Linked DNA regions of Homo sapiens: region 1 is linked to region 2. Evidence: fine-mapped expression QTL. A gene starts in region 2. The other region holds a variant in brackets. All regions are shown on one strand. Distances are between the middles of the regions.

Region 1 (4,391 bases), 30 kb after region 2:
AGAATATCACAGACATAAATCTATAACATTAACCATTTCCATTAGAATACCTGACAGGTTCCTCTTATTTTTCTAAATCAGAGTGAATGCTGGCAAATATTTCTCATCCTAATCAAGGAAGGCACCCTCAACCTTCTCACCAATAATTGGGAAAACCAACCTTCAATCTACCACCACTCAATTCCTCACTTAATTTCAGCCGGGCATCTACAGTTCTTTTCAAATCTCTTTGCAAGCGACGTCCAAAGTCCCTGAACATGGTTGAACCTCCAGAGAGGACAATATTCTAGTGGAGAGAAAATAAATATAATATTTAAAAAGAGAAAAGTTTAAAGATATAATATATAGTACTGAAATGCTATTATATCCTTTTTATGAGAGGTGTTTAAGTTTTTTTAAAGTAAGACCTTGAATAACAATTTTGCTATAAATACCTTGTAGAGAGGACGTCTGACATCAATAGGACAATTCTGAATTACTTCATCTACAACTTCTGAGATAGGTTGTGTAAAGTCTGGATTAGCAAACTGAAAAATAAGTTGGATATATAATAGAGATCATATCACTACTGACAAATATCACAATAAAAGGTTAAACAAAGTTTTCAGTTCAAAAACAAAAGGCCTTTTAGAAACCACTAATACTGGTCTCTAACAGATTCAGATTGAAGACACTGAAATCAGAGAAAACTCAAAATTATGATGATATATACCATTTTATAACTATCAGAATAGCAAACATGTAAAGTCATACATATACTATGAGCTGGCAAAAATCTGGGTAAATGGAAACTTTCATATAACGCTGTGAGAGTATACACTGATGTAACCACTATGGAGAATAATTTGGCAATAGTAACATAGTGACATGGTCTGGCTCTGTGTCCCCACCCAAATCTCATCTTGAATTGTACTCCCATAATTTCCACGTGTTGTGGGAGGGACCTGGTGAGAGAGAATTGAATCATGAGGGTGGTTTCCCCCATACTGTTCTCATGGAGTGAATAAGTTGCACAAGGTCTGATGGTTTTATCAGGGATTTCTGCTTTTGCGTCTTCCTCATTCTCTCTTTGCCTGCTGCCATCATGTAAGACAGGACTTGCTCCTCCTTGCCTTCTGCCATGATTGTGAGGCTTCCCCAGCCACGTGGAACCATAAGTCCAATTAAACCTCTTTCTTTTATAAATTGCCCAGTCTCAGGTATGTCTTTATTAGCAGTATGAAAACGGACTAATACAAATAGCTAATAAAATTTTAAATGCACATACCAGTAACTCCACTTCTTACAACAAACTCTGAAGAAACTCCCCAAACATGTATGCTATTACATATGCATATTTACTATAGCCTTGTTTCTAAGAGGAAAAACCCGTTAAGTCCATCAATAGGGGATGAAATAAATAAATGTAGTCTAATCTCATTATTCATGATTCCATATTTGTGAATTTACCTAATCGCTAAAACATATTTGTTACTCCCCAAATCAAAATATGGTTATTCATGGACATGCACGTGTAGAGCAACAAAAATTTGAGTCCACTGATGTGCACATTCCCCATTGAGGTTGAACAAGATGATACTCTGCTATCTAGTTTCAGCTCTCATACTATAAACAAGTGTCCTTTTCACAGTTCTATTTAGTGGCACGGTTTTCATATTTTTGTTAGTGATTTCATTATTTAAAATGGCCCCCAAGCATACTGCTCAAGTGCTGGCTAGTAAACACAAGGAGGCTGTGATGTGTCTTACAGAGAAAAAGCAAGTTAGATAGCTTTGTTCAGACATGTGTTCTAGTGCTATTGAATATAAATGAATATACTAAAATGATATACTAAATGCAGTGCCTTTAAAAAGAAACACACATGAAACAAGGGTATATGTTAATGGGATAACAAAAATGTTACCAGAGGCTCAAAGAAACCTAATACTGTATTTCCCCTAGGAGCAATAGCTAGCTCAGTGTTCACTAATTCAGCGCTCTCAAGAACTTTTTGGCACATCTACTTTGAATAACAAACATCAGCTATATATTCAAACGATGATATACCATAGTCAAAATAAACTTACTATTTCCAAACAGCTGGCACTCAAGAAAAACATACTTTTTAAAAAACTAACTTAAACAAAAACAAAAAACAACTTGAAGCTGGGCATGGTGACTCACACCTATAATCCCAGTGCTTTGGGAGGCCAAGGCAGGACCATTGCTTGAGACCCAGAGTTTGACACCAGCCTGGGCAACATAGCGAGACCCTGTCTCTACAAAAAATTTAAAAACTAGCTAGGCATGGTGGCACACACCTGTAGTTCCAGCTACTTGAGAGGGCTGAGGAAAAAGGATTGCTTGACCCTAGGAATTCGAGGTTACACTGAGTTATGATCACACCACTGCACTCCAGCCTGGGTGACAGAGAGAGACTCTGTCTCTAAATAAATAATCAAAATCTAGCTCTAATTAGTGAAAAACAAACAAGTATTGTATATCTCCTCAGCCATTCATTTTTATCATTAGGTTGTCCTAGTTGAGAGACATTATTCCTTTATTTATTAAACTGAGTCTATAACTGTATTGATAATTATTAGGCATGTGTCAATTTTTTCTTTTTTTTTTTCTTTTTTTTTTTTTTTT[G/TG]AGACCGAGTCTCGATCTGACACCCAGGCTGGAGTGCAGTGGCGCAATCTTGGCTCACTGCAACCTCTGCCTCCTGGGTTCAAGCAATTCTCCTACCTCAGCCTCCCGAGTAGCTGGGATTACAAGCGTCCGCCACCACGCCCGGCTAATTTTTGTGTTTTTAGTAGAGACGGGGTTTCACCATGTTGGCCAGGCTGATCTCGAACTCCTGACCTCAGGTGATCCGCCTGCCTCAGCCTCCCAAAGTGCTGGGATTATAGGTGTGAGCCACCACGCCCTGCCTTTTTCCAGTTTTTAAGATTAGTTCTAAATTATTTACAGGCTGCGCATACAATGAAAAGAGATTTAATGTTATCAAAGTGACACATACTAATACAAAATCTTTTCATTTAGATCATGTAAATGGAGTGAAAAAGACATAGGATATACGAAAAAGAGATCCAACACAAGAGAGAGGGAAAGGGAATCCCTAGAATGATAGTAAAGGAATATGGCAACTCTATACTGGGAACCGACAGAAGCAAGTTCAGATTGGGATGTAAAAGACACTTCAGAAAATTAAACTGATGAATAAACCCTATACATCTGAATATCCTGAGAAGAGATTTATATAACTACTGAAGAGAGTTTGGAGGTGAATGAATGGTAATTATTTTAGCACTAAGCAAACAGTTTATTAATGACTTCTTGGAAAACAAAGTTACTTATAGGAAGGGAAAAGATTTCATGGTTAACTACATGGCTCAGATATGAACAAAATTTGTGGTCACAAAAACATAAGCACTGAATTTCAACCTACTTGAAATTATAATGTAACAAATGAGATGAAAAGGGAATAGAAAGGTCCTGTCTGTGATGACAGAAGAAGGATAAAAAAGACAATCTTCCTCTTCCATAGTTGGAATTCGACAGACAACGCCTAACACAGGGCTGGGCACAGTGGCTCATTCCTATAATCCCAGCGCTTTGGGAGGGCAAGATGGGTGAATTGCTCGAGCCCAGGAGTTCAAGACCAGCCTGGGCAACATGGCAAAACCCTGTTTCTACGAAAAATACAAAAATTAGCTGGAAGTGGTGGCACATACCTGTAGTCCCAGCTACTTGGGAGTCTGAGGTGAGAGGATCACCTGAGCCTGGGGAGACTGCAGCGAGCCATGACTCAGCCACTGCACTGGGTGACAGAGCAAGACCCTGTTTCCAAAAGAAAACAAGAAAAGCCTAACACTGAAAAAAAATTTGAAGTTGCAATATAACCAAGCAATTCATAGCTAAGGAGGTAATCAGCAAAAGAAGCAACTAAGAAGAGTTTGAAGTGGTTACCTCTAGAAATACAAAACAAGAGAAAGAAACATGCAGGGCACCCCTAGTTTTTGTTAGGATACGCAGACCAAGACTTTTAAACCATGTGCATATATATAACTGATTTTTAAAAACAGCCTTTAAAAAAAAGAAAACAAAACAGGTTTTTTAAAAAGAGAAACAGGTTTCTCATAGAAGAAATTACTTATAAGGAACATAAAGCTATAGACAACAGAAAATGTTTTAAAGTTAAAAAATAAAGAAAAATTGGTGTATGAAACAATAAAGGTTATTCAAATTAATAGAAAAAATGATATATGAAACATTAGCAGCAAGACACATTTTCATCCAGCCAACTATACCTTTCCTAAGCAATATGAAACACATTTTATTTACATATCTAAAGCTTTGGGTTATTTATTTATGAGACAGGGTCTTGCTCTGTTGCTCACACTGGAGTACAA
Region 2 (4,391 bases):
CCTGAGTGAGGAGACGGAGCAGACCCCTCAGCAAGATTGTCAGCTCAAATACAGGATGGCCAGTTACACCCGAATTTTAGGAAAAAATAATAATTTTTAGTATGCAACATTTGAGACATACCTATACTAAAAAATTCGCCGATTATCTGAAATTCAAATTTGAATGTCTTGTATTTTTCTTTGCTAAATCTGGCAACCCTATCCTTAAGTGATTCACGGTAGTTGTGAAACATCAGGAAGAAATAAACCTTGTTATTTTAACCCACAGAGATTGAGGATTGTTACTGCCAATAACTTAGCCTATCCTGACTTAACTACTTCCCATCTCTGGTGAGGGAATATGTTGATGAGGCCTAAGTGTAGCCCCAATATTTGAAAGGAAGAAGGCAGTTTCTGTACATAATAAAAGAGAAACTTGGGAGCTCTGGGACATAATTTAAGAAGGAAGGATGGGTAGAAAATTGGTGTAACACAGCCTCAGCCATCGGGGAACTTCACGTCTACTTGGAAAATAAAAATTAAAAAAAAAAAAAAAAAAAAAAAAAAACGAAAAAAATAATGGTAGAGAGAAGTCCTGAGAATAAAGAGGCCATGTGGGTTTGGAGCAGGCATGGAAGGACTTCATGGGGAAAGGAGGTTTGCCTGGCCAGGAGATAAGCAAATAAGTAGGACTGGGGATGTAGAAGGGCTGAGAGCAGCCATGCCCCAGGGAAATGAGTAATCATGGTTTGTCTGTGAGGTTATTGTCTAGAATTGCCAGAGTCTACAAGACCAGCTGTCCCCGAGGGTTGGAGATAAAGTGCTAGGTGGTGTGGAAGTTGTAAGAATCAAAATGGAGTTACTAATGTTTTTTCTTTAAAAAAAAAAAAACTCAGGCTGTGCGCAGTGGCCCACGCCTGTAATCCCAGCACTTTGGGAGACTGAGGCAGGCGGATCACCTGAGGTCAGGAGTTCGAGACCAGCCTGGCCAACATGGTGAAACCCCGTCTCTACTAAAAATACAAAAATTAGCTGGGCGTGGTGGCGGGCACCTCCCAGCTACTCAGGAGGCTGAGGCGGGAGAATCGCTTGAACCCAGGAGGTGGAGGTTGCAGTGAGCCGAGATCGTGCCACTGCACTCCAGTCTGGGTGACAGAGCAAGACGCCATCTTGGGAAAAAAAAACAAAAAACAAACCAAAAAAAACTTGACAAATAGAGCTAGGGAAAGCTAAGAAGAAAGCACTCCCACACTTGTATGCCTGATAACAAAAACTAACACAAAAGGCTCTACAAAACCATAACCTTGCACAAAGGCCATCACAGCCTTACACATATATATAAAAAAAAAAAAACAAAAAAAAACCTCCACAAGGACATTCGCCCAGCAACTGCCTGTCTAACCTTGGACTGGCAACCCCTTGTTATTGATCTCTGTAGCCAAGGATAACCATTTGAAAACAATTATGAAATCCTCCTTACTTTCTCTTTGAAAACCTTCCTCTTCCTTTCTTCCTCTGCCTCCTCGAATATGCACAGTTTACTATGACATGCGTGTTACCGTTGCAACGCTCTGCTCCTGAACAAACGCCTTTCTCTAGACAGCCTCTCACTGTGTGGTTATGCAGCTTGACAGGGGCCCGCTGGACCCAAGTTTACTGCCTCTGGCAGGCGGTGGTGATGACGGGGAGTAAAAGCACCTTGTGGGGAGTTGAAGGGAAAGATATTTCAACGCAAAAACCCAGGCACTTTTACTACCTTTTGTTTGATGCATCGGTGTTACGGGAAAGCTCCTTGGCAGCGAGGGCCTGGCTCTTTATCGCCGTGTGTCCCCGCCCCACGTGGGTCCCATGCTTAGCCCACGGCGGGTGTTTGAAAAGCACGGAATGTATATGGCGGGACAGGGCGCGCTGCGGATACACCGGGACGCCCCCTCAGCCGCGACAGTAACGGCCTCCGGCCACCAGGGGGCAGCCAGGGCGCGCTGCGGATACACCGGGACACGCCCCTTCAGCCGCGACAGTAACGGCCTCCGGCCACCAGGGGTCGGCCAGGGCGCGCTGCGGATACACCGGGACGCCCCCTCAGCCGCGACAGTAACGGCCTCCGGCCACCAGGGGGCGGCCAGGGCGCGCTGCGGATACACCGGGACGCCCCCTCAGCCGCGACAGTAACGGCCTCCGGCCACCAGAGGGCGGCCAGGGCGCGCTGCGGATACACCGGGACGCCCCCTCAGCCGCGACAGTAACGGCCTCCGGCCACCAGGGGGCGGCACACGGCGCCTCAAACTGTAAACGGCTCCGGGCTTCGGAATCCGGGCGGGGAGCGGAGAGCGGTTCGCAAAAGCCAGTTGGTGCCCGGATGCCGGCATTGTCACGGGATCGCGGCCAAAGGGGGTAGAAGACAGCGCAACAGTCGCTCTTCTTGCATGAAGCTATATGCATCTAGTGTGACGGATTATCCTACCTGGAGACTGTCTTTTTCAGCTCGGCATCACGGGGGCGGGGGCGGTGACCCCCATCCGGGCTCCCCGGGGGCGGTGACCCCCATCCCGGCTCCCCGGGGGCGGTGACCCCCATCCCGGCTCCCCGGCCTTCTCTCCTCCGCCCGCTCCTGCCTCCCTTCTGCTTACTCCTCTCCTGGTCAACAGGTCAGCTCGGGGTCCTGCTTCCAACCTCCTCCTCCTAGTTGAAGCCGGTTCTCAGGAGAGAACCTGCCATCCGCAGCTTTACACCTCGGCAGGAATGTAAATCACTCTTCTCCCGTCCCAGGAAGCCTTTCCAGTGTTCTGATTCCAGAAAGCAGGTGTGTGTGGCCGGTTCAAGGAATTTCAAGCATCAGCAGGCAGAGGAAAGTACCAGAGTGGAAGGCAGCCCACAGGGTGTCGAAATCAAGCCACCCAGGGAGCCCGCAGATCCCACCCTCTCCGGTGAGAGAGTTTGGTGGGGAGCACTTCATCCAATGCAGGGAACAGCGTTACTGCGGCCTTCACCTCCCGGCTTCAAGTGATTCACCTGCCGCAGCCTCCCAAGTAGTTGGGATTACAGGCGCGTGCCACCACGCCGGGCTAGTTTTTGTATTTTTAGTGGAGATGGAGTTTCACTATTTTTCTCTCCCCATCCCGGGAAAGTTGTATCTGTTTACCACATGTTCTCCCACATCTACTCGGTTTTACCTCTGTAAGGCCTGAACTCAAAAGCCAAGAAAAAACCTCTTTCTCCAGAACTTTACCTTTTCTGGCAAAAGGAAGCAGGGAGACCTACTAGGAAAATGCCAAGAACAAAATGATTAATCATGTGAAGACGGCATCTACCACCTCAAATCGCCCAGCTCATTGAACCTGCGTGAGGATCCAGCACTGTCCCTGGTGTGTACAGCTCAGTGCACCGAGATGACCAACCGCCTGGGTTTGCTTTACTGTCACTGCTAAAGGCAGGAAGGCAGCTGCCAAACCAGGACAAGGTGGTCACCCCACGGTGAACATCAGTCACCCTCCCTAGCCCACACAGGCAAACAACCGGGGGAGACTATGGCTCAGGGCTTAGAACCCAAAGGCCTGAACAAATGAGGAAGTTTCTACAACAAAGACTTTCTTTGACAGAGTAACCAGTCATAATTTCTGAGCATTCCAGGAGCGCTGTGCAGAATCACAGGTATTTGGCAACTAGTGGGATAAAACAAAGGTGCCATTGAGGATGTTTACAACCAACCCCTCTCCGGAGATAACCTCAAGGTCTTTCCCTTGCACATGGCCTTTCCATGACTCATCCACAGCAGCTGCCTCCCTCCACCACACAAAGGACCCTGCAAGTTCTGTTTGGTATTCTTGAGAATAAAAACTCCGTGGGTCGTTCCCTGGAATTGGTTCTCACCCATTTTCTTTCCTCTGACCGTAGCCAGGATAGGCATCTAATTCTATAGCTTGTCCGTGGAATGGAAAAACAATTTGGATTTTCACAACCTGAAACCTAATTTCTGGTAGGAAGGTACCATCTGGTGGATATTTGTGAAACTGCTCACGTCCTGTGTTTGAAAATGAGCATCTGGGGGCAGCGTGCCTCTCCGAATGTCAATAGGAACGTTGCTCCGAGAGGAGGAGAGATCCACACTCAATGTGGCTGATCCCCTTAACTATGTGACACTGTGTATGTGACTATGTCATAAGCAGCGTCATCCCTGTTTACAGTTTTCTCAGTTTACAATGAATTTAAATAGCTACCCATTGCCTCTTCCTCTCCAAGCGTACTCCTTGCTCCTCCGTGACAGGCACATTGATCTATGAGAGTTGTCTCTTGGGAAATCTAGTCATATCTCATGCGAACATTTTCTAATTGGTGCACCCACCCCTCTGTGGGCATGTTCGCACAGTGTCATGGGCCCTTTGTGGAGGGTTGTCCCCTTTGTTCACCACAGC

The links. PIP is the estimated chance that this variant, and not a neighbour inherited with it, causes the effect.
Region 1: its variant is the best candidate, but not a certain one, in a credible set for the expression of LINC01191 in neutrophils (CEDAR, PIP 0.70).

What each region holds. Positions count from the first base shown.
Region 1 is chr2:113,947,615-113,952,005 of GRCh38, reverse strand. ACTR3 (actin related protein 3) reads right to left here. Exons shown (of 12, transcript NM_005721.5): 9 at 435-527; 10 at 161-286. Among named protein-coding and RNA genes, the nearest start is that of LINC01191, 30 kb to the left of the region's middle. The variant G/TG (reference allele first, on the strand shown) is at 2,629.
Region 2 is chr2:113,977,473-113,981,863 of GRCh38, reverse strand. It overlaps LINC01191 (long intergenic non-protein coding RNA 1191), which reads right to left and starts at 2,295. Exons shown (of 2, transcript NR_148509.1): 1 at 1,736-2,295. It overlaps LINC02992 (long intergenic non-protein coding RNA 2992), which reads left to right and starts at 1,880. Exons shown (of 1, transcript NR_034130.1): 1 at 1,880-4,195. RefSeq lists a silencer at 1,998-2,187 and an enhancer at 2,278-2,427.